Linked DNA regions of Homo sapiens. The protein of the gene in region 1 interacts with the protein of each later gene in a pairwise test. Each region holds a gene or a part of one and is shown on either strand. Other genes may lie near its edges. The genes, in order: VASN, NR4A3, ZNF837 and VWC2.

What was found.
Region 2: the proteins of VASN (region 1) and NR4A3 interact in binary tests that used the Homo sapiens proteins (3 or more experiments, as listed by UniProt).
Region 3: the proteins of VASN (region 1) and ZNF837 interact in binary tests that used the Homo sapiens proteins (3 or more experiments, as listed by UniProt).
Region 4: the proteins of VASN (region 1) and VWC2 interact in binary tests that used the Homo sapiens proteins (3 or more experiments, as listed by UniProt).

The regions. Positions count from the first base shown.
Region 1 is NC_000016.10:4,374,823-4,381,856, reverse strand, and holds part of VASN (vasorin precursor), read right to left. Parts: intron 989-7,034; 5' UTR 980-988; coding exon 1-979. UniProt on the Homo sapiens protein: May act as an inhibitor of TGF-beta signaling.
Region 2 is NC_000009.12:99,824,851-99,831,884, forward strand, and holds part of NR4A3 (nuclear receptor subfamily 4 group A member 3), read left to right. Parts: intron 1-808; 5' UTR 809-982; intron 983-1,879; exon of another isoform or gene 1,880-1,920; coding exon of another isoform or gene 1,921-1,951; intron 1,952-2,497; exon of another isoform or gene 2,498-2,616; intron 2,617-3,190; coding exon of another isoform or gene 3,191-3,192; coding exon 3,193-4,143; intron 4,144-7,034. UniProt on the Homo sapiens protein: Transcriptional activator that binds to regulatory elements in promoter regions in a cell- and response element (target)-specific manner.
Region 3 is NC_000019.10:58,367,102-58,371,043, reverse strand, and holds the end of ZNF837 (zinc finger protein 837), read left to right. Parts: intron 1-1,115; 5' UTR 1,116-1,225; exon of another isoform or gene 1,226-1,327; intron 1,328-1,682; 5' UTR 1,683-1,711; coding exon 1,712-3,307; 3' UTR 3,308-3,421; downstream 3,422-3,942. UniProt on the Homo sapiens protein: May be involved in transcriptional regulation.
Region 4 is NC_000007.14:49,797,624-49,804,657, forward strand, and holds part of VWC2 (brorin precursor), read left to right. Parts: intron 1-5,087; coding exon 5,088-5,217; intron 5,218-7,034. UniProt on the Homo sapiens protein: BMP antagonist which may play a role in neural development. Promotes cell adhesion.

The DNA.
Region 1 (7,034 bases):
GCGTCTCCTCAGGGCTGGCCAGTGTGACGTGGCTCTCGCGCACCCAGGGGCCAAACCAGCTCAGGGGGCACACGCAGTTGAAGGGGTTGCGGGCAGCTGCCAGCAGCCGCAGGCGGGGGAAGAGGCCCGAGAGGTCGCCAGGCAGGGCCTGCAGGCTTAGGTTGCTCACATCCAGCTCCTGCAGGGCAGCCAGGCCGGCCAGGTCCTCGGGCCGCAGCTGGGCAATGCGGGTGTTGCCGGCCAGCCGCAGGCGCGTCAGGCCCCGGAGGCCTCGGATCACAGGTGGCACTCGCTCCAGCTGGTTGTCGGACACATCCAGGTCGTGGAGGTTGCGCAAGCGGCTGAAGAGCCCCTCGTCCAGCTGCTGCAGCCCCAGACCAGCCAGCCGCAGCGCCTCCACGTTGGCAGTGTCCAGGATGCCGGGCTCCAGGGCCAGGAGGCTGTTGTGGCTGAGGTCCAGCAGCAGCAGGCGGGGCAGGCGCAGCGGGGGCAGTGCCCGCAGCTCGTTGTCCTGCAGCTTGAGCTCCAGGAGGCGGTCGAGCGTGTCGAAGGCACCAGGCTGGATGTGGCGGATGCGGTTCTTGCCCAGGTAGAGGCGCTCGAGGCGCCGCAGGCCACGGAAGGTCTCATTGGTGATTTCATGCAGCCTGTTGGCTGTCAGGTCCAGGTTGCTGAGGTTGGCGAGTGGCTGGAAGACCCCGCTGGGCAGGCTGGCGATCTGGTTCTGTGACAGGTCCAGGAGCTGCAGGCCCGGCAGGCCGGCAAAGCTGCCTGCGTCGAGCATGGTGATGCCGTTCTCAAAGACGTACAGCCCCACCGTGTCGGGTGGCACGTCTCGGGGCACCGTGGTCCCCTGGCGGGCAGTGCAGAAGACTGTCTGTGGCTGGCTGCACTGGCAGCCGGATGGGCAGCCCTGCACCCCAGGCCCCAGGGCCAGTAGCAGGAGCAGCGGCAGCAGCAGAGGGACCCTGGAGCACATCTTCTGTCCCTGGGAGCAGAGAGGAGGCAGAGACAGAAGACTGTGAGTCAGGGGCCTAGAAGGCAGACACGCCAGGAAGAGCCAGAGGGAATTCACTGCTTCTGCCCCCAAATGCAAGAGAACCCAATGGTTATGAGTCAGGTCGCCAGTGCCCCGACCCAGGTTCTGTCCCAGCCCCGTCACTCCCTCACTGTGTGACCTTGTCAATGCACACAGAGGTCATCATGGGGCATGACATCCACTGAACGTGCAGTGACCATGCACTGCTTCCTCCTGAACCCCAGGCCCTCCTGCCTCTGCCTAGGTAGGTTCCCCCATCCCCTGCCTCAGAGATGGACCAGGAAGGAGAGAATGGTGGGACTTGGAGCGGCAGCTCCTCCCTACAGGGTCTGGAAGAGGGGGCAGGCAGGCAGCTGGGTGGGTGTGTAAGCAGAGAAGCTGGCTGCCTTGGCCGCCGGCTCCTGCTGCCACGCTCCGTGTCCCGCCCTCCTTGGAGGAGGGAATGCAGCGGGAAGACTTCACATGGAAACTATGGGATCCATGTTTTTCCACTTGGGCAGTCAGACCTGCTTAGGCTGGGGGCTGCGGGCCGCCAGGAAGTGGCCGGCGGGAAGGTTCCTGGAGGAGGGGCAGAGGCCACAGGCATTGGCAGGTGTCCCCTGTGAGGGAGGGAGGCGGGGAGCTGAGGCTGGTGACAGAGCTGGAGCTGGGGGGCCACAGGGCTCAGGTGGGGACACTGGCTACATGGCAGCCCCAGGGGCAGTGCCAGGCCTGGGAAAACTCTGCAGAGTCATTCATCTACTTTTTTTTTTTTTTTTTTGAGACGGAGTCTTGCTCTGTCACCCAAGCTGGAGTGCAGTGGCGAGATCTCGGCTCACTGCAACCTCTGCCTCCCAGGTTCAAGCAATTCTCCTGCCTCAGCCTCCCATGTAGCTGGGACTACAGGTGCCAGCCACCATGCATGGCTAATTTTTGTATTTTTTTTTTTTTTTTTTTTAGTAGAGACAGGGTTTCACCATGTTGGTCAGGTTGGTCTGGAACTCCTGACCTCAGGTGATCTGCCCGCCTCAGCCTCCAAAAGTGCTGGGATTACAGGCATGAGCCACCGTGCCCGGCTTCGTCTACTGTTTCTTGGGGTCTGCCCTGAGCTGGGCACCAAGAAAGATGAGCAGCAGCCATCCCCTTGGCAGTGATGGTGCAAGTCCTTCCCATGTGCCAGCGAAGTGGGAAGGACGAAGGAACACTAAGTGTTTACCGTCACCTCAGGTAGCCCCCCAGCAGCCACGTCAGGGCAGACAGAAGAAAGCAGGGCTCATGGAGGTGCAGGGACTCGCTGCCATTGCGGTGCCAGCAAGTCCGAGCTAGAGCCCAGGTGTGCAGCAGCCACCTGTGAAGGGTGCGTGCCCTCCAGATGGCCCTGGGGGCGGGGGCTCCCACCAGCCGCTCCAGGCTCCAGATCTTAGCTGCACTGCCCAAGTCAGGCAGGTCTGTGGCTGGCCCCCATCACCTAGACTCCTGGGGAGACCGCTGGGGCCGTCCCCAGGAAGAGCCCTCCCCACTTTGGCACCCCTAGAAGTCCCTGAGCCTCATACGGGGTGCCAGCCCATCCCCAGGAAGCATCCTGCCCAGTGGCGCCTGCAGCTCACACAAGAGCCCTTTGTGCTGGAGTCCGGGCTTCCCCTTCCCCCACACAGGCTGTGCAGGTAGTCCAGGGAACACGACCCCGACCCAGCCTGCACTCCGCCCCAGGCTGGGGGGACCCGTCCATAGGGCTCCCTCTCCCCCAGGTACGTGGGTTCCTGGAATGTGAGGAGGAGCAGGTGGTCCCAGGACAGATTAGACAAGTCACTGGTGAGGTGACCACTGGGGTCTGCGGGTAGCTCGAGGTGAAGGAAGAAGCCCTTGTCCCCGGGGTTGGGCCCACGCAGGCCCTGCCCACGTGTAGTATCGCACTGCCAGAGTCGTCTCCCCTAGGAGCTACCGACCCTGAGCCCCTAGCCAGTTAGCGACAACAAGCACCCTTCAGAGGCCAGCAGGCTAAGCCTCCCCAACCTAGCGGTGTCCCCCTTGCTGTCGTGTGCCCCCTCACCTCCCTAAGGTGAGACCCAGCCTGCCTTTGCCATAGGTGTCTCCAGGCCCACTTAGCTCAGGTCTGCTGAGTGAACAGCCCAGGAGGGCCTGGCACTGAGCACTGGAAGAAGTTAGCACCCCAAACCCCAGGCACGCGTCCCTGGCCCGGCCAGCCCACCCCAGGGGGGCTCGTGTCTGATGACCTAAGGCCCTGGGGCCACACCCCTAGCCTTCTCTTCCCCCATGGGACCCGCTCCACCCTCACTGACTCAGAGGACGGCGGGTGCGGCCTGGCCTCCAGATGTGGGCTGTGAGTGACCCCCACCCACCCCATGTCCATATGGGGGGTGAGGCCACCTCTGCCTGAATTAGCCCTCCCAGCAGGGCCAGACCAGGGTCAGGAAGGATGCAGCCAGGTTCCAGAGTGGGAGGGGATCCTCCACGTGGCCAGCCTGGCCAGCCTGGCCACCACTGTGGCCGCAGCTCCCCTTGGGCCTCGTTTAAGGTCACAGTTAAGAGCGCTCACTCCAGGCAGGCGGCCCTGTGCTCAGAGGTGTCCAAGCTGTGAGGCCGCAGACAGTGACTTTGCTCTCACACCTCGGTTTCTTCATCTGAGTATCTGGGACACTTCAGGGCTGCAGTGGGGGATGCATGTGGAGTCCTCAGCCCTGCAAGGCCAGGTGTGCAGGCCAGCTCTTAGGGGCACGTGCTGGGGGGTGCTCTTCACCCTGCACTGGGGAGGGGGACCAGCCATAGCTCTGGGCTCCGTAATCTGTTGGGTCTTTAATCAGCAAGGTTGTGAAGGGAGAGGGGATGCTGTGGGTCCATCTGGCCACAGGGTGGCTTTCCGGCTGACAGGTAGTGAGCTGTGGAATGTGCGTTCCTGTTAGCAGGACAGGGGTCTAGGTCAGGACTGTGGGCTGGGGTCCTGGGCTGACCATCCAGCAGGCGGCAGCCAGCCTGCTTCCCAGCCCCGTAAAATGTGCGGTGAGCTCTTTTGCCTGAGCCCCAATTCTACCCCCACATCAAAGGGAGGAGGGAGGAGGCAGCGCTGGAGCTTTGGAAAACCCCAGAGTTTGTAAGCTACAGGCTGGCAGCTCTGAGGGCACCGCCAGGGACTCCTGGCACTGAGAACCCATCAGCCAGCCCCGAGAGGAACCCAGCGAGGGAAGGCTGACTGTGGAGGGGACGGTGGCAGGGGACAGAGGCCAGAGTTCCTTTCTCAACTGTGGGCCTCAGTTTCTCACCTCTGGAGTTGGTGCAAGCAGCCCTGCCCCCTCACCCTCTGGAGTTGTAGTTTTCTGTTGTTCTGTTTGTTTTCAAATGGGGAAGTTCTTTTAACAAGTTCTGGGAGCTGTCCCGCCCGCCTGGGGTCTGGGCGTGTGCTTGGTGTGTGCGTGGGGCTGGGGGCTGTCTACAGGTCACACGGTGGTTGCCGCCGCCCACCCACCCTCCCACCCGGTGATCCCAGGACCTGGGCTTTGATATTTGATCACTAGTCAGGCAGGGAGGTGAGACCTTTTCCTCTGCCTGGTGCAGGAGGTGTTCCGGAGGCAGCCCTGGGATTCCTGGGATTCGGGGACGTCGGGGGGTGGGAAGATGACGCAAGGGTCTGGGGCCTCCGTCCTCCACCCAAGTTCCTCAGCCTTGCTGAGTGCTGCTGCCGGCCTTGCTCCCTCCCTGGCACAGTAACTGGCATAGGGCGACAGGGTCCACAGCCCGGCCACGACCCCTACCTCAGCCCCCATTGTGCAGTGGGCGCTGCTCGTGGTGCTCGTGGTGCCTGTGTCTGGGGTGACTTGGTCTGTGCTCGGAGCACTTGCCAAGTGGTCGGTAAACATTCACTGCGGAGGGCGTCACTCATAAACGCAGAACTCTGCCTGCCCCCTGGGCGTGGGTACTACTAAGGGAGAGGGTTTCAGGCCAGCTTTACACAGATCAGACATCCCCACACCAAGGCTGCCCTTCACCCTGGGGGCTGGGGAGCGGGGGTGGGGTATCTCTGGTTCTGGAAGGGGGCACGTGGTGGGTGAGCTGTCCCTTGGCGGCCCCTTCAGCACAGGACTTCAGGGAGGGGCCCTATGAGTAAGGAGGACAAGGCACTCGTCATCTCAACTCCCAGGGGGACGCCCACCCACCTCTGGGGTACACCACACACGCCCAGGGTCAGGCGGGGACGGGCCAGGGGATAGCATGGCTGGGGTGGGACCCAGGCATCTGGTGACCACATCAGCCCCTGGCGAGAACATCTCACTGATTCTGGGGCAGGCGGTGTGCCTGCTGAGTAGGGGACAGGCTTGGACAGACAGATAGACAGTCTGAGGCCAGTACGCCCCTCCTGTGCCGTATGCTTCAGCGTGGGTGCAGGACAGGCGCTGCAGGTCTGACCCTGAGACTCCGGGCCCCCGCTCCTCATGCTGGCCCGCCAAGGCTCTGTGTGGCCGGTCAGGCCTGGCAGCAGCCCAGCCCCGGGAGTCTGCCAACCCCTCCAGGCAGGCGGGACTGTGCCGGCGGCCAGGACGGCTGGCTCCAGTTTCGCTGACGTGTCCGAGGAGGCTCAGGGCCCGGCTGGGTCCGCCCCGTCTCCCCTTCCTTGGGACACAGCAGTCCCAAGGGCAGGGCAGAGAGGTCAGGGGTCGTGGGCCCTCACAGAAGGGGCAGAGAGGGCTGGGCCTCGAGTTCCTCAGGGACTGCGGCAGGTAGACCCTCCCTATAGGCGCGGGGACCCCTGGCTGGTGATTGAGCGGGGGTCCCCATGGGTGTCAGCCTCTTTCTTACTCCATCCACCACCCCAAGCTGGCGCTCTTCATTCCACAGATAATGCCACAGCCAGGAGCTCAGTCAGGCACTCACACGCTTTGTGACCTCATCCAAGCAAGCTCCCCTCTCTGGGCTTCCGTCTCCCACCTGTGACGCCAGGGCTTTGCCCGCCGGGCTGCACATCAGAATCATCCAGGAAGCTTTCTAAAAAAAACCTCCATGCTGGGGCCCCACCCCCAGGCCAATTAAACAAGAAATTCTGCCGGGCATGGTGGCTCACGCCTGTAATCCCAGTACTTTGGGAGGCCGAGGTAGGACGATCACGAGGTCAGGAGATCGAGACCATCCTGGCTAACATGGTGAAACCCCGTCTCTACTAAAAATACAAAAAAATTAGCCAGGCCTGGTGGCAGGCGCCTGTAGTCCCAGCTACTTGGGAGGCTGAGGCAGGAGAATGGTGTGAACCTGGGAGGCGGAGCTTGCAGTGAGCCAATATTGCGCCACTGCACTCCAGCCTGGGTGACAGAGCAATACTCCATCTCAAAAACAAAAAGAATGTCTAGGAGTGAGACCCAGGCAGAGCTGTATTTTGGAGAAGCTCCTTGAGCGAGTCCTCCGCACAGCCAGGGTTCAGAACACCAGGACAGAGGGTTGCAAAGGGGACAGTCAGGATGTCAGCTCGTCTTCCTGTGCAGGGAGGAGGCTCTGTATCCTGGAGCAGGTGTGGACCAGCTGGCAGGGCTGGGAGAGGGGCAGGCACAGGGTCTTCCCTCCTCCCTCCACCCAGGAGGCTGGCCCGGCCCCAGGTGGGTGCCTTCAGTAGCACCGTGGGTGACTTGGCAGCTGCCAGACCTGTTAGCCCAGGGCAGGGAGACCAGTGACTAAGGCCAGGCCCCAGCTCAAGTGAGCCCCTGGGGCGGTGGGACGTGCCATCGTAGTCACAAGAGGTGCAACCTGTCAGGGAGGACACCTGTGGCCCTGGGAGCTGTGCAGTGGCTGCAGCCCAACTAGAAATGGGCCAGTCCAGATGCCACTTTCGGCACGCGGCAGGTGTGATGCCACCAGGGCTGGGCCCTCACACGGGGCCTCCTCACTGCCCTGTCCCCACCCAGGGGCAAGCACCCATCTAGTAAGGCCCTAACCTGCAATTAACCCTGAACTTGCCAGAAGAACACCTTAGTCACCAAGGAAGGCCGCCAGCCCTAAGCTTCCTGGGCCTGGGGGT
Region 2 (7,034 bases), on another chromosome or scaffold:
GCTCGGCGCCCTCAGGAATGTGCCCCCGCTAGGCCGCTGGGTGGCCAGGAGCCTCCAAGCCGCCCACCCTCGAAGACACCGCCCTCTGGGTGCAGGGGACCTGCCTCCGCTCGTCCCATCAGCCGCTAACGCCGTCCGCTTCGTCCCCTTGCTTCCAGCGCCAGCCTTCTCATCGCTGTGCCCTTTTGTTTGCTTGACCCCTGGCCCTCGAAACTCGCGGCTAATAGAAGCGAAGCTCCATTAGCATTTAGAATGAAAAGCGCAGACTTTCTTAATTCCTCGGGGCATTCATGCATTCGTTCCGGACCTTGTGCATTTCCTATGCAACGTGTAAAATTTGTATTTGAGGGGTGGGGGCGGGCGGAGCTGGAAAATGGCTTTTTTCCGCTGGTGAACACTCACTGACCCCCCGTATTCGGGCGGAGCTCGTTCCTCAAGTGTTCTGCTTTCTTTGGTTTTCCTGACTTCGTAAGCTCGGAATCAATTGTGGGGGCAGAGAGATCAATTTCTGGGCAATAACAGGCTGCGCGTTTTTTTTTTAGCCTCGGTTTTGGTGCCACAAAACGGTGGTAGGCGCAGTGGGTTCCAACAACCTTTCCTCGGCTTCCCCGAGGCCGTGTGATGCTTCTTGCCCAGGGGGACTCCTGTACCATTAATCACCCTTAATTTTACGATAATTCTTTGTAATTAATGTAACATTTCTAGAGGTTGCCAACCAATTCCCCCAGTCCCCAATGCGCCCAGCCCGGGCCGTAGTGACCCATCCTGGTCTCACTGTGACCTATGTCCTCTTTCACCTTGCCTGTAGAGCCCACTGCGGAAGAGGGCAGCCCGGCAAGCCCGGGCCCTGAGCCTGGACCCTTAGCGGTGCCGGGCAGCACTGCCGGCGCTTCGCCTCGCCGGACGTCCGCTCCTCCTACACTCTCAGCCTCCGCTGGAGAGACCCCCAGCCCCACCATTCAGCGCGCAAGATACCCTCCAGGTAGGTCCGAAGGCAAGACCCTTTTCTCCTCCCTGGCTGAGGGAAGTGGGTGGGGGAACCACACACTCGGCGGGCAGCGTGGTCGACCTGCCCAGTGCCAGGACAGTGACTGCTGGCCGCGAATTTCACAACACAGGTGGCTTCCTCACAGGAAGCTCCTCTGTATACCACACCCTGTTGCTACTGAGTGGAGCAGCCAAATTAAATTAAGCTTGCATTGCTCAAAATTAATTTTCCTAAGAGAAATACAAATACACCAATAGATTAGGGTATTTTATACATTTTTAATTTCATTTTTGCTCTTCTTTTATAGCCAGTGTGCACATGTAAGAGTTATGGAATCACTTAGAGCAATACTGAGCATTTTCATTTATATAAAACCCAAATCATTTGGGTGCAGAAGTTTGGATGATTGAAGCTCAGAGGGAAGGAGAAAAGCATTTGAGATGAAAACCAAAGAGTAAATTTGAGTTTGGCAAAAGAACAGATTGCACTTTTGGTTTGTACCACCTCTTTACAAATTTGTTAAAGGAATACTAGGTGCCAAGCCTGTGTGGGCACCATAGATAATGCAGATAAATAGAATACAATCCCAGCAAGCTCATCTTCTAGCTAGAAACCTCAGAAAGACACAAATAAGAGCAGTAAAAAGGGATTGGCCGGAAAGAATGACAGAAAAGAGTAATGGAGAAATCCTAGAGGTGCTGAAGGGAGAAGGAGAATAGATCAAAGATCAGGCAGTGTTCTTTCTTTTAAATGATTAGCCTTTCATTTCATCCCAACAACTGGACAGCAAGATAAGTAACTGGACTTCAAACTAGTGAGTGTATTTTTAAGGCCCTGCTTGTTAAAGAAAGGCTTGAACTGGCCTCTCCTCATCACTGCTTCTTCCAACAGGCCCTCATCACCTTTTTTCAAGTCAAGATTTCATCCCATACATGCATGACTCAATCAGATTTGGAAATGTGGGTAAGAGAAAGATGTCAAAGGAAATGTGAAGTATTCACTTCTCTATTAGTCACACCTTTTACACCATAGACTCCAAAGAGGCGTTAAGCACCTGGTTTTCCTTTGGCTCAGAAAAACCAACCACCAAAAACCGCCGTTTTTTACCATTTATATTTAGCCATAAAGAAAGAAAAATAATTAGATAAATCATCCACTACATCCAATAATTCTCAGCGCCTTCTCACTCAGTTCAGCCTCTCTGAACAATAGTAAGCACCCTGGATACCAGCCACTTTGGGGGCAACATAGTCAAACTGGCAGAGAAATCAAGTCTATTGAGAAACTGCTTTTTTTCATGGGTACTAATTCTAGTGTCATAAGGAAATACCTATACTAACTTGCCTATTATGATAGTTATAAACTGTTATCACAAAACAGTCACTGATATGTTTTATTAGTTAGAATTGGGATATATATATGTGTGTGTGTGTGTGTGTGTGTGTGTGTGTGTATATATATATATATGGGTGGGTGTTTTGTTGCAGCTGCTGATCTTTTTCTTTGCAGATGGTACAAACTCTCCCGAGTCAATTTCCTGGGCCTATGTCCCCACCTAGCTGACTGAAGTTATCAACAGGGGTCCAGTTTGTGCAGGCTGCTAGCCCTATTGGAAGAGTGGGGATGAGGTGGGAGAAAGCAACCACAACGTGTGTGGGCAACCTCAATTGGCACTCATAAAATGTTAGAATGTCAACTCTCTCCCTTGGCCACTAAATCTCTCACAGGGTAGTTTTTCTTGCCTAACTCAGGTTTACAAATCAATGTGTATGCCTTGGGGGACCAATGGCCTCTTTCCTCCCAAATAAACCACTGGCTTTCTCTTTGTCCCCCTAGGTTATAGCTGAGGAGCCCACTCCAATTAGTTTATAGGATTCAAAGCCTCTTTTTAAAAACATCTCTGAGCTTATGAGGAAAGACTTCAAGTTTCCCAAATCTAGTGGAGGACAGGGCAAGGGAGGAAAGATAGGTACAGGAGTCCACAGGAGGCCAGGTTTTGGCACCCCTTTGTCAGGAATTCAGCTTCCTTACTAGGGATGAAGAAAATAAGTGTGGGGCTTTGTGTCTATGCTACCAGAAGGAGGAGAGGATGACACTTCCTCTCTGTTTCCCAGATTAGAGAACAGTGAACCCAATGCTGCCTGTTGGCTAGAAAACAAGTGTTAACTTGCTTCTGAGAGACCCTTTTCTCTGTCCCTGCAGATATGCCCTGCGTCCAAGCCCAATATAGCCCTTCCCCTCCAGGTTCCAGTTATGCGGCGCAGACATACAGCTCGGAATACACCACGGAGATCATGAACCCCGACTACACCAAGCTGACCATGGACCTTGGCAGCACTGAGATCACGGCTACAGCCACCACGTCCCTGCCCAGCATCAGTACCTTCGTGGAGGGCTACTCGAGCAACTACGAACTCAAGCCTTCCTGCGTGTACCAAATGCAGCGGCCCTTGATCAAAGTGGAGGAGGGGCGGGCGCCCAGCTACCATCACCATCACCACCACCACCACCACCACCACCACCATCACCAGCAGCAGCATCAGCAGCCATCCATTCCTCCAGCCTCCAGCCCGGAGGACGAGGTGCTGCCCAGCACCTCCATGTACTTCAAGCAGTCCCCACCGTCCACCCCCACCACGCCGGCCTTCCCCCCGCAGGCGGGGGCGTTATGGGACGAGGCACTGCCCTCGGCGCCCGGCTGCATCGCACCCGGCCCGCTGCTGGACCCGCCGATGAAGGCGGTCCCCACGGTGGCCGGCGCGCGCTTCCCGCTCTTCCACTTCAAGCCCTCGCCGCCGCATCCCCCCGCGCCCAGCCCGGCCGGCGGCCACCACCTCGGCTACGACCCGACGGCCGCTGCCGCGCTCAGCCTGCCGCTGGGAGCCGCAGCCGCCGCGGGCAGCCAGGCCGCCGCGCTTGAGAGCCACCCGTACGGGCTGCCGCTGGCCAAGAGGGCGGCCCCGCTGGCCTTCCCGCCTCTCGGCCTCACGCCCTCCCCTACCGCGTCCAGCCTGCTGGGCGAGAGTCCCAGCCTGCCGTCGCCGCCCAGCAGGAGCTCGTCGTCTGGCGAGGGCACGTGTGCCGTGTGCGGGGACAACGCCGCCTGCCAGCACTACGGCGTGCGAACCTGCGAGGGCTGCAAGGGCTTTTTCAAGGTGAGCGCACGCCGCCCCCTCCCCTCCGCACCCAGCCCCCTCACTGAAGGGAGCTTCTAAGTGAGTGTAGGAGCATCCTTGTTCTTCCCGGTTTGAGAGCTGTAATCGGCACATCATGCTTTCCTACAGCCCTTCCTAGCACCTTCACATCCATTTTCTCAGGGGCTTTCTACTGAGGTCCATGTGCAGCAGGCCACCCCAGACGGACTCCGGGGGTCCGTGAACCTCCTGGCCTGACACTGCCCTATGAACATTTTTCTGGAGAGCTTTCAGCAGAGTCTTAAAAGGACCTGTGACTTCGAAAATGCAAAAACCTCATTGCTTTGTCTGTCCATCCAGGGTGTCTGAGGGGATAGTGTGTGCGTACCAAGCCCTGGACATTTGTGTCTCATTTAATCCTTACAGTAAGAGCTGGGGCTCTAGAGTCAGACACATCTAAGATTGAATTCTGGCCACTCACTAGCTATTTTTAGTAACAGTGTTTTAAAACAGTGTTTTAATTTTCTTTGTTTTGTAGATGAGGATGTTGAGGTTTGAAGAGGTTAATCAGCTGCCTCAGGACACACCTTCAGAGAAGGGAGATGGAGGCAGGATGCCAACCCACGTTTGCGTGACCCCAAAGTCCATTCCCTTTTCACAGCTCTGCAGCTCTAGGAGACAGGGACAACTGTCTTCTTCTATGGAAAGAGCTGCCTCTTTCCATAGAAGATAGAACTTGGGGTCTTGTGTCCTCTAGGAACCTTTCCCTACCTCTGTATCACATGCGGTGCCAGGTGTAGACATAATTCATTCCCTCATAGGCCTAACGGAGAAATTTTACAGTGGGAGGGCCATCAGCCTCCCCCATATTTTACCCACGAGGAAGCTGAGGCCTGGAGCGGTGAAGCCTTATGCAGGCTGTAAGCAGTGATTTAACTGCCCATGAGATGTTTCCAGCTGATTTGTCCTGACTCCTGAGTTCAGTGTTATTTCTGCCACTTAGGGAAAAGACCTTGCTCTTTTGCTGTGCTACCTTTTGCTGTTGACTCCCAGACTTTATCAGACACTTACTTCTGTGCCATCCTTCTCACTCCTCACCCCACTGGCCATTATTTCAGTCATTTACAAACCCACACAAATTATTCCTTATCCTCTAGTGCTGGACAGGGTAGAAAGAAAGAGAAAGCAGGATGCTGACTGGGTAACTTGGATTTGGGAGGCCAATAGGATATATCTGGGAGTACACCAGAATTAGTGAGAGAAGACTCAAATAGAAGACCTTGATCTTCCACCTTCCAATTGTATCATGTTGGGCATGACACTTCATTCTAAGCCTGTTTCCCTATCAATGAATAAAACTCAGAGAAGAGCTGTGTATTCAATGAGATAAAAATATATATGAAAGTGCTTTATAATCTTTAAAGAGCTGTACAGATAGTTCATTATTAAACAAAAGCTATAAAGTTTTGTAAAAATGCACATTTGTGGAGGGATATACATAGCAACAAGCAACAATTATTTTTGATCTTCAGATTGTAAATATCACTACCTGAATTCTGCAGAGAAATGAGAAAATGTTTGGGGAAAGACTGCAATACGTTAAGTGCCCTACAGATATTTGGGATTATGATGTTTTAAATGCAGAATCTTGGTCATTTTATTTTATTTTTTAGCCACTGAGTTTGGCCATTTTTTGTTTTAACTACTCAAGCTTTATCAGAGCTACTTTCAAGTAACTGCATTCCTTTAGCAGATTTGATTTTTACAGGATTTCAGTGGAAAATGCTGAAGGACAGTGAAACTGGCAGCAGAAAGGGGGAAAGAAAAAAACAAGAATTATGAATAATCTACAAATATAATTATCTCTAAATAATGGAGAGTTGACCAAAATACCAGAGTGGTAATACATTCTGAGTCCAGAAATGTCAATTAAGTGTTCCCCAACAGCTTCTCTTTTCTGCAGCAATCCCTCGAAAACAAATCTATACTTGAAAGGGTGGGGGCAAGATGGGGGAGAATCACCCCACAGAACTGTTAATTAAGGGAACCGGAGCAGGTTTTACCCAGTGGCTTTCTACCATTAAATTGAGTTCTTTAAAAATGTGACATGAAGTGCAGTTAATGATAGGAATTCGGTGATTGAACCATAATGATCTCTCCCTGTCCTTAAACACAAATGTAGGGAAGGCTTCAGGTTATTGGGAAAATGTATACCTGAAGCAAAATGCCATCAGCACTCAAATTGGCATAAAGCCTTGAGGATGATGGCAAGAAATAGAGTGTTAGAAATTACTGCATGTTCAATGAAAGCTTTATTCAGGAAACACACGTTTCCTACCCTTACAGACTGCTAAGAATTTAAATGCTGGAACCTCAGAAGTATGCCTGTGTTTCAGAATTTTGCATTTTAAACTAAAATCACCTACTATGGTGGGAGAAACATGTCTTAGACTTGACATAGGTTGGCTTTGTTATATTAAGTTTTATATAAGCAATCTAGAAACTATCCCCTAAAATGAAATTAAAAGGTAACAGGGTAAAACTGAAACATGGGGGTTGAGAATGACTGGAAGTAAATGTTAAAAAGCAAATCTAGATGTTTGAACACAAAATAGATCATAAAGCCCAAGTTACCTGGATTTATTTTCTTTTTTTATTAATGCAGCCCAGGCTTCCCAAATAAATTTCAACTTTCTGCTCTATTTGGAGTTGTATAGATCCAGGTAATTTCTGAACAGTTTCACCCTAAGTGGTAAAAATACGTTCATTTGCACAAATGTTTTCAATTTAAAAAGCAAGCATTTGTTTAAATTTGGAGGACGAAATATGTTTATTTCTCCATGTGTCATTTCCAAATTATATGGATTCTGAAAAATACAACATCATTTTTCTATCCAACCTTAAGTTTTATG
Region 3 (3,942 bases), on another chromosome or scaffold:
GGTATCGATCTCCTGACCTCGTGATCTGCCCACCTAGGCCTCCCAAAGTGCTGGGATTACAGGCGTGAGCCACCGCGCCCGGCTCCCCCCCCCCGGCCTTCACCCCTCCCTCCCTCTCTCTCTCTTTTCTTTTTTTCCTTTTCTTTTTTTGAAAGAGTTTCACTTTTGTTGCCCAGGCTGGAGTGCAATGGTGCGATCTCGGCTAACTGCAACCTCCATCTCCCGGGTTCAAGTGATTCTCTTGCTTTAGCCTCCTGAGTAGCTGGGATTACAGGCACGCACCACCATGCCTGGCTAATTTTGTATTTTTAGTAGAGACGGGGTTTCTCTATGTTGGTCAGGCTGGTCTCAAACTCCTGACCTCAGGTGATCCATCTGCCTCGGCCTCCCAAAGTGCTGGGATTACAGGCGTGAGCTACCGTGCCCGGCCGTCCTTTGTTTTCACTTGCTATTCAATTGCTTGCTTAGGAGATGAATATTTATATATGCACGTGTGTGTATCTCAGCAAAGTCCACTGTTGTAAGCAGAATAATGGCCCCCTGAAAGATCTGCACGTCCTGTTTCCTAGAACCTCTGACTATGTTACTTCACAAGGCAAAAGAACTGAGTGTGATGAAGTTTTGGATCTTGAGATGGGGAGATTCCTGGATTATGTGTGGTTGGCCTAGTGTGATCACAAGAGGCAGAAGGGTCAGAATCCTATAAGGAGTATAAGGAGATTTGACAACAAACCCAGAAAGAGAGAGATGAACATGTCTTACTGCTGGCTTGAAGATGGAAGAAAGAAAAGTAGGTGGCACCTAGAAGCTGGAAATGGTCAGCAAACGTCCTCCCCAAGAGCTTCTGGAAGGAACCCACACTACTGAAACCTTCACTTAGGACTTACGACCTCCAGAACTCTGAGATAACAAGTTTGCACTGTCTCAAGCCACTATGGGGTGGCAGTTTGTTAAAGCAGCTTTAACAATAGATAACTAATACAGCCACAGTGTAATTTTAAAATAGTAATAGCAGGCGCCAGGCGTTGCTAATGTTCACACTTGCTTGAATGATCTGGGCTGCCTGTCTCCCTACTCAGCTGGTTATACTTACCGTTATCATACCCATTTTGTAGATGAGGCTGCCAGCCTTGAGAGCACCACCGTTACCTGGTTGAAGAGGGGAGGGGAAGTCCAGCATTGGCCTCTGCAGCGTGGATCTCCCGGCCAGGCTCTCAGCTGTCAGGTGAGTCTCACCTCACACCTCTCAGAAGACATGGACAATGGCAGTGAATGGAGCCAGGAGGACCCGGAGTGTCGGCTTGCCACTGAGAAACGGAGGGCAGGAGTAAGTGAGATTTTGGGGAGCTGGCAGCTGAGCAACGGGGGAGTCCCTGTTGCTTGGGGAAGGGGGACCAGGGAGGGCCTTAGCCAGGGGCACAGTGTTTTAGGAGCTAGTGTTGGGGAGGAACGGTGATGGCGGGCAGGCAGAGCCTGGGAAGCTGTTCTCTGGGGTCTGGGTGGTGACAATTTGAAGAGGGGCAGGACGGGCTGCCTATGTCACTCCATTTACCCTTTCGCATCTGCAGAGAGCTGGGGGCCGCCCAGTAGGTGCCAGCTGTGGGGTGGTCGCTCGTTGGCCCAGTTCTCCACTTCTCTCCTCCTGGGAACCGCCAACCTCCATTTCTTCTCTGCTCTTCCAGATCCTACAACCAGAACTCTGCGCCCCAGGATGGAGGCTCCAGCCCAGAAGGCTGGGCAGGGAGGACTCCCCAAGGCCGATGCCCAGGGTGCCTCCGGGGCCCGGGAGAAGAGGCCCGAGGAGCCGAGGCCCCTCGAAGAGGACCGAGCTGGGAGCCGCCCCACTCAAAAGGGGGACCTGCGTGGAGCGGCGGGCGGTAGGACGACTCCCCCAGGCGGGGGCTCCCGGGGCTGCAGCCTCGGGGTGAGCCCCGGCCCGGGGACCCGGCACAGCGCCGGGACCAGACCCCTCGTGCGGGAGCCGTGCGGCCCCACCTCTTCTCAGAACCCTGAGCTGGTTATCCCCGAGGGGCTGCAAGCCCGGGAGGGCCCCTGTAGGAGCCCAGCGCGTGGCGGGGACTGCAGCAGGAACTCCTGCCTGGCGTGGCATCGCGGGGCGCCCGCTGGGGAGACGCCACCCGTGTGTGACCCCTGTCCGGAGCGGATCCAGAACCACCCCCGGACTCAACTGTGTGAGGTCCACACGGACTGTTGGCCGTGCCAACCAGGGACTGGCGCTCCGACCTGCCCGAGGACCCCAAAGCCGACCTCCCGCGGGAGGAACCCCTTGGTGGAGCAGCCCCGGGCTTGCGCGTGCGGCGAGGCCTTTGCGTGGAGGGCCCTGCGGATCCCCCAGGAGAGGCTGCAGGCGACGGAGGAGCCCCGTCCGTGTGCCCGGTGCGGGAAGCGCTTCCGCCCCAACCAGCAGCAGCAGGCGGGCAAGAGTCCCCCAGTGTGTCCTGAGTGCGGCCAAACCTCGCGACCTCGCCCTATTGTCCCCGACCCCCCGGCCCAGCGACTGTACGCTTGCGACGAGTGCGGCAAGGCCTTCACGCGCACCTCCAGCCTGCTGCAGCACCAGCGCATCCACACGGGCGAGCGGCCCTACGAGTGCGCCGAGTGCGGCAAGGCCTTCGTGCGCTGCTCCGGCCTGTACCGCCACCAGAAGACGCACTCGGCCGAGCGCCACCGGCGTGGCCCCGTCCTGGCGCGGCGCGCCTTCCGGCTGGGGTGCCCGCCCTGCGGGGACTACAGCGAGCGGAGTCCCCGACGGGGGTCGGGAGCCGGGGAGAAGCCGTACGAGTGCGCCGACTGCGCCAAGGCCTTCGGGCTGTTCTCGCACCTCGTGGAGCACCGGCGCGTGCACACCGGCGAGAAGCCCTACGCGTGCCCCGAGTGCGGCAAGGCCTTCAACCAGCGCTCGAACCTGAGCCGGCACCAGCGCACTCACAGCAGCGCCAAGCCCTACGCGTGCCCACTGTGCGAAAAGGCCTTCAAGGGCCGCTCGGGCCTGGTGCAACACCAGCGCGCGCACACCGGCGAGCGGCCCTATGGCTGCTCCGAGTGCGGAAAGACCTTCCGCGGCTGCTCCGAGCTGCGCCAGCACGAGCGCCTGCACTCGGGCGAGAAGCCCTACATCTGCCGCGACTGCGGCAAGGCCTTCGTGCGCAACTGCAGCCTGGTGCGCCACCTGCGCACGCACACGGGCGAGCGGCCCTACGCGTGCGGAGATTGCGGCCGCGCCTTCAGCCAACGCTCCAACCTCAACGAGCACCGGAAGCGGCACGGGGGCCGCGCCGCGCCTTGACTGCAGGGAGCCGAGAGTCGACGCGTCGCCCAAGCGAACCCTGCGTCGAGGAGGGGCCTTTGTCCCGGAAAACCCACCAACGTTTGTAACTTTGATTAAACTTCACTTTGTACACATGGCGTCCACAGGCTTCCCCTAACTCGAGTTTTATTTGACCTTTTCTAACCGGGCGCACAGCATCCGGTTGCAGGCATAAGCAGTAATAATCTCGAGTGGGCGCTGATACGGCCCAGACGCTGTGTCCACGATCTCTAGGGTCTTTTTCTCCGCAGAGCCGCGGAGCGTGTTACTGGGCTCTCTGGTATGCGAGGAAACGGGGCAAAGTGACTCTCCTGAGGCACGAACATAAGACGATGGAGGCAGGATTCGAACCTAGGGTCTCTCATATCCCTTAGGCAGCTTCAGGAGCCTTGGGACCGCGGGGTATTTGCACACCCTCTACCGTAGCCGGCCTGGCACAGCTCGTAACCCTCCAGAGGTGAGACCTCGGGGCAGGCTTCTGCCTGTCCCGGCCCTGGCAGCTCGGTAGTCGCGGCAGAAAGGGTTCCCTTTGGTGAAGTGTGAAGCCCTGGCAAGCTTGCCCTGGTCTGACTGACGAGCGGGGTCGCCTTTATTGTCGCCCCCCGCTGGACTCC
Region 4 (7,034 bases), on another chromosome or scaffold:
AACCCCTGCTGTTATCTGTATTCTCACCTTCCTGAAAAATGGTATAAGTAGTATTCATCTCTCTAGCCTCAGGACTGGAATGAATAAATGAACACATAGAGAATGTCTTCATTCTCACTCCCAATCCCAAGAAACCATGTTCTTTGGATCCAACAAATTTTTCCCTACTCCTGGCACACAATAGGGGCCTTGAGAATGAATTCTTTTCTCAAATGCCCAACTGTTTCTCCAGGCTACACATCTAAATTCTATCCATGCAAAACTTGGAAGATTGTGAAGAATGACATTTCTGCCATAAGGTATTCTATGTAAAATGTAGGTGGTGATTTGCTAATAAGAAGTACTAATGCTTTAAACTTAGGTTGTCCCTAGTTAAGTTTCTTCTGGGAAAATGATAACTTTAGAAGAGGAGAAAAGTTTGTGTCATCTGATCGGAAAAAATGTGCATGGAAGTTCCTGCTGCTGGTTGCAGAGTAAATGATGTGCTCGGCATCTTACCTTTAGTTTCCATGTGGGACAAAGAGCACAGCCTGGCAAAAGGCCCATGGTGCTTGAGTTGGCACGTGGGGAACCATCAGCTTGGTGGGTGCTTACAGTCAGAGCAGCAGCTTGGTATCTGACCAGGTCAAGGGACAGGCAAATCTTTCACCTCACTCCTAGACATTTGGGTCAGCTGCCTGGGCCTGCTGACCACGCCAGTGGGGATCCAGCTATGGGTTGGTGAAATGAGCCTAAAAGAGGGTCACTGTGACCCAGAATGCCAGATTGGCCCTGATGACTGGGGATTAAAGCCTCATGTCAAAGCTAGAACCCACGGCTGGAGCCACGGCTGCAGCTTCCATCTGCTCCTTGGCAGCCTCTCTGTATCTCAGGAGGTGGAAGGCACTAGCACATTGTCCTGGAGGACTCTGAGCAGGAAGCTGCTTTTATGAGTGTACAGTGGCCATCCTGGGGCACCAAACAGAGCCCTGTGTTGGAATGAGGGTCCTTAGGCAGTGTAGGGACTGGAGCCAGTGTAGGGAAGAGCTGGCCTGAATCCAGCTGGGTCTCTGTCAGATGTCCCTGGAGGACTCGTGTGGAGTTCAGTGGTGGCTTTTCCTCCCTGATGTAGTGAGGCTGCATCTTCCTCAGCTGGCTGCTGAGTTCACGTGGGCATTGGGGTTTGTGTTTGTTTTATTTTGCTACTTTAACAACATTCCCTTCCTTACATGAGGGCTGTGCAAGGCCTAGGTTTGAGCTCAAGTGATGTCTTAATGGAGGGAAAGTGCCCATTTTCATCCAGGTTGGTATCAAAGATGGCTCTGCAGAGGAGGCCACGTTTGAGCTGGATCCATGACAGGTAGGAGCTTATCAAATGTGAGCCAGCGAGACAGGACAGCATTGAGGGGGCATAGGCCACTGCTTCACCAAACGAGGAGCATGGCGGAGTGGGCTCAGGGGGTTGGCATGGCTGAAAAGGGCAGGGCATTATTTTCATCTGTTGAGTCTGGGCACACCTGCTTAGTTGGGTGAAGTCTGATCAGTGATCAGGGCCCAACACTGGCAAGTGGCCCAGTGGCCCAGCAGGTGGTCTGAGATGGTGAGGCAAGAAGGTTTTACTGGAAGGTGGGTTCATGGGTTAGGATTGGAACTGCCTCAGGCCTAGGACAGCCCGCCTGCAGGAGATGGGAACATAAACCAAGTGAAGGCAGGGTTCTTTTATGTGACCTGGATCCTGGGTAGGGGTCCCGGAATGTCCCTATCAGATGAGAAACTCTGACTTCAGGGCCGGTGACCAGCTTGAGGGCTTCTGCCCAGGCAGAACTAGCAGGGCACCTGGCTGGCATCTGAGGGACTCACACAGCTTTGCCACTTGCTGTCACCAGCCTCACTTCCTCTGGGAATTGAGGCAGGCCCAAACCTGGGATGGGAGTACATAGGAGCCCAGCATGGGTGCTGGTGAAGGCAGATGTAGGTGGTAGGAGGTGAGGCCTGATTGGCGATCCTAATTCTAAGCATCAACTCTGATTTTTTAGAAGTGAACAAATCTCCAAATACAATCATGCATCACTAAATGACAGGGAAGCATTCTGAGAAATGCATCCTTAGGTGATTTTATCATTGTGTGAACATCATAAAGTGAACTTACACAAATCTAGATGGTGTAGCCTATTTATTACACACCTAGGTTATATGGTATATCCTATTACACACCTAGGTTATATGGTATAGCCTATTGCTCCCAAGCTGCAAACCTGCACAGCACGTTACTGTCCTGAAAACTGTAAGCAGTTATAACACATGGTATTTTTGTATCTAAACATAGAAAAGATATGTAAAAATAAGACATTGTAATCCATGGGACCACGTCGTATATGCAGTTCCTTTTTGACCCAGTTATGGGGCACATGAGTGCGGCTGAATCAGGATTTCTAAATATTTAATGACAATATAACTGACAATCAAATTTTTTACAAAGCTACAAAACCTTTGAGAAAATAGCATGCTGGCCTGTGTGCATGCCTTTAAGCAGTATTCTGTGGCATGGATTCAATGAAATTTCAGCTCCAGTGGCAGTAAGAAGTGTTTTTTTTCCAGGCCAGTGATCTCTGCTCCATTTGCCAAGGTGTGCACCTTCATGCAGAAAGCTGCTGGACGAGGCTGATTCAGCGCCTGCTGCCTAAGGACCTGGAGCCTTTTTGACGTTGCAGTTGGACCTTTATCTCTGGTCCTGCTGTATTCCAGGGCCCTCCCCGGCGATATGACATAGGGTGTGCTCTGGCCTTCTTTTAAATTCCCAAATGGAAATGGTGCTTTTTATTCCCTCCCTGGTGTATGCCTAGGTGAGGAGTAGATGCCACGTTGTGCTGCTTCGTGAGGACAGACCTCACTATCTGACCCGCTTGCTCCTTGCTGACTATCCTGATCTCTATAGGGGGATGGTGCTCCCCTCCCCTGGGGCAGGGTGTTCTGGCTCTCCATCATGTAATCCACACCACCTGGGCTTGAGGGCTTATGCTCTGAGTCCTTCCAGCTGAAGGCTTCTGACATGCAATAAACCATGTCTCTTGCAACTCAAGGTCTTGGCTTTTAAAACTCAGAATTCTGTTCTCATTCTGCTTGCTATGTATATATCCCCCTTGAGACAAAAATGCTACAGACTGAATGAGGGAATTGGTAGGAGACAAGGAAATGAGACCCACAATGATGACAGCAACAATAAAGAGCACCACTGGTTATGGTAGCAAAAAAAAAAAAAAAAAAAAAAACCTAATTGTGCCAACAACAACAAAAGAAACTCATCTCAAAAACAGGCCTTTATATTACTTCAAGATTGATTTTAACTTCTAAGGCTACATTGCCAACCAGGTCAGTGTTTTGTCTCAGGCTACACTAAAGTTTTTCAAAGTTTCCTTTCTTTTTTACATTTTTTTGGCCAAGTACACATACACACACTCCTTAGCCCTCACTCCCAGGCAGGTTGACTGTGGTCTAGTGCCTCAGAAAGAGACATGGTTAAACTCCAGTTGAGCTTTTGCTTCTCGTAATAGCCAGTCCACTCAGTGGAGATTTCAGTTTTTAGTGTTTGCATTGTATAGACAAAGGGAGCATCTGTGAGAGTTACTCATGTTCTTTACCTTACAAGCGGTATTTGTATCATGGACGTGGGGCACACAACTCAACTGGGGTCTCCCTGCCCCTGGCAAAGCAGGAACTCAGCTTGATACGACCCATTTCCATGTCCCCCATTTCCATGGTCTTTCTAGTGAGTATCCCCACTTCCCAGTTTTGCTTCTGATGGCTGGGTCTGCATATGCTCTTCCTGCTTTGTCCTGGGTCAGCCAGATCAAAAATCACTCCATTGGTGGTAACCAGGAGATAAATCACCATGCCCTGTGTGAGTGACCATGGAGGGTCCCGTTAGCCACGTACAGCTTTCTTGGGAATGGCTGGTATGCTTGATTTGGATAGCTCAAGAAGGCAGAGTATGAGCCCATGGCTGGAAAGTAGAGAGAGGCAAATGGAAGCTTGGTTTCTAACAGAGCATCGTGATGCTGGATAGTGGGCAGAATGACCTGGAGGAAATTGGAATCACCATGGACTCGCAGTCAGGAGCCCTCAGTGGAAGAGGACCTTGTGCTCACAGGACAGACATGCCCATGGCATGTTGCCTAACACCTCTGAGTCTCAGTTTCCTGTTAGTACAAAGGGTCAGTAATTTGAGTACGTGTATTTTAGCGCTGCTGTAAAAGTTCAGTGAGGGAATATTCATAGAGCTCCCGGCCCTTGGCCCCGCTTGGATGCCACCCTGTTTCTCCTCCTTCACCCCTTTCCCCTTTCCTATTCCAGTGTCTTCGTAACTGGAAACACTGGGAGTGTTCCATGTGAGTCTGGGTGGTGACTTGACAGGGTTATAGACAAGGGATTCACCTACGTGGTGAGGGGATGGGCAAGAACTCAGCAGCAAGTTTTTATTTGTTTAATTTTTAAAGAGATGAAAAACATTTCTTCAAAAAAAAGTTTAATAAGAAACCCAATATGCAGACCACAAATTAAACAGTGGCTCTGGCTGGACAGGAGAGGGAACATCATAGCCCTGTGGCCCGTCCTGTGCGTTTGCACCTAAGACAACTCACCAAACACCCAGCATGCCTGTGTCCACACTCTGAAAACCACTGGGCTGGATCATTTTTTAAACATTCCTAAAACACTTAGGTGTCTTCGCAGAAAGTTTAGGGAAAGAAAAGTATGACCCTGTAGGGCCAGGCTCACTCCTGTAATCCCAGCACTTTGGGAGGCTGAGGCGGGCAGATCACTTGAGGTCAGGAGTTCAAGACCAGCCTGGCCAACATGGTTAAACCCCATCTCTATAAAAAACACATAAATTAGCCAGGCATAGTGGTGGGTGCCTGTAATCCCAGCTACTCAGGAGGCTGAGGCAGCAGAATCGCTTGAACTCGGGAAACAGAGGTTGCGGTGAGCCGAGATCGCACCACTGCACTCCAGTGTGAGCGACAGAGCGAGACTCCATTTCAAAAAAATATATATGACCCTGTAGGATAAACATGACAGCAGGCTAAAGTGCTGATTGTGGGCTTGTGTTTCAGGTGTCTCCATGCGAGAGGTGTCGCTGTGAAGCCAACGGTGAGGTGCTATGCACAGTGTCAGCGTGTCCCCAGACGGAGTGTGTGGACCCTGTGTACGAGCCTGATCAGTGCTGTCCCATCTGCAAAAATGGTATGTGAGATCCCCGTTGGTGACGGGGTGCACCTCCCACCCTGATGCACAACCCATGTGCTGCTTCATGGTAGACGGGACACATACGGATACGTGAGTTTCATCCTATGTATCAATACACATGCGTACACACGTGTGTAATCTTTCAGCCACAGTGGTTCTGTAGCAAGGCCTTCTCTCTCTTACTGGCATCAGCACCATGTTTTATGGATGTTAAGAAGTTCTTTGGGGAGAAATTCAATTTCCACCTTTGAGGAGAGTCACTTATTTTAATTTAACTTTGTTTGTTCTTGCAAAGCTGTTTCTATCTTTCCAAGACACATTAAACACACTGGTTGGGCTCATTTACTTTTCATTACTAAGTGAATGAAACTTGGAACATAATTGAATATTTTTCATAAGCAAATTAGGCAGGAAGAGAGTCCCTTCCTATTCCCAGTGAGAGCCCCTGGTAGATCAGAAGCCTTGCTTACTTTATGAAAATGAAGTGGCAGGATGTCCTTGATCCTAATTTGTCATGGGAGAGTGTTTCCTCATCCTGACAAACGATGATTACTCTGTACCTGAGGTACTGAGGGCATTACACTATAAGACGGTTTTTGACAAGAGTGCATACCCAGGCTGGCTGGGCCTGAGAATTATGGCCCGGAGGGCAGTTTGACAAGAGGCTGAGCAGAGCTTGGGAAACAGCGGACAGAGGGGACACAGCCGGAGTCTACAAGGATCTGAGTGGCCTCGCTGACAGGAGCGACTGGGCTTTCTGGATGTTGCCCAGGGTATGCTGTGGGGACCCCTGGTTGAGAGCATTCAGAGCTAACTTGTGATGCTGTCGGCCGTTCATGTGGGTTGCTGGACCGAGGCTTGATAGCTGTGTGGCATGGGTTTGGTATGTGGCAGGCATGTGTTGGTGGATGGTGACACAGGGGTGGTCATGGTGCTCAGACAATTCCCAGAGTCTGTCATGACAGTCGAAATTGTGCGGGCCATGAGGTTCCATGGGTACCTTCGACCACGTACCTGTACATATCCAGATTTTACTACAACACATTGTAAAACTCTTGAGGTAAATAATTGGAAGAGGGAATGATGTTGCTGTTGAAGGATAGACCTGAAAGAACAAGATGACTGTGTTAGGAATGTCATAATCATTGTAGCATAGTACATCCAGTCCTCCAAAGGCAAGTGGACAGTGTTAAAACAAAGATGTCACAGAGTGTACTTTATATAGGGTTGGCTGGTCTCTTGTGCATGTTAATTATGAAGAAATCCTGAGGTAGGATTCCATTAGACAAGAACGAGGGGGACTTTGAGCATGGAGTGTGTTTTTTTTTTAAAAAAAAAAATGATGTTGAGACACCAGCTGTGAGATGGAGGGAAATCAATACAGTTTACTCTACTAGTGTTAATTACCACTAATTAACACTAATAAAGGGGGAAGAAGACTCTGGGATTGGGGAAGGAGAGGCAGATGGAGAATCTGGCAGAGTCTCGGTGTGGCTTTCAGCACACCCGCTGAGGAGCCCGAGTGAGCGCCTCTGGTCTGCTGGGAGAGCTGAGGGCTGGCGCTCAGGCCATGTGCCCTGCATGTCGGGGGTACTGGACGACAACAACTCTCACTGCGTCAAGGGGTTTAGTGAATGGCTTAAATATGGGTTGCTTAAATATTTGGCGTCTTAACTACCCAAGATATTCCATGTTTTTCCTGTAAATTTTGATTATAGACTAAGTCTTGGCATTAGATAGCCGGGAATCCTAGCTTGAGTGTTAACAATAGGTGAGAAGACAGGATTTCAACCCCTGGATTTTTTTTTCTTGCT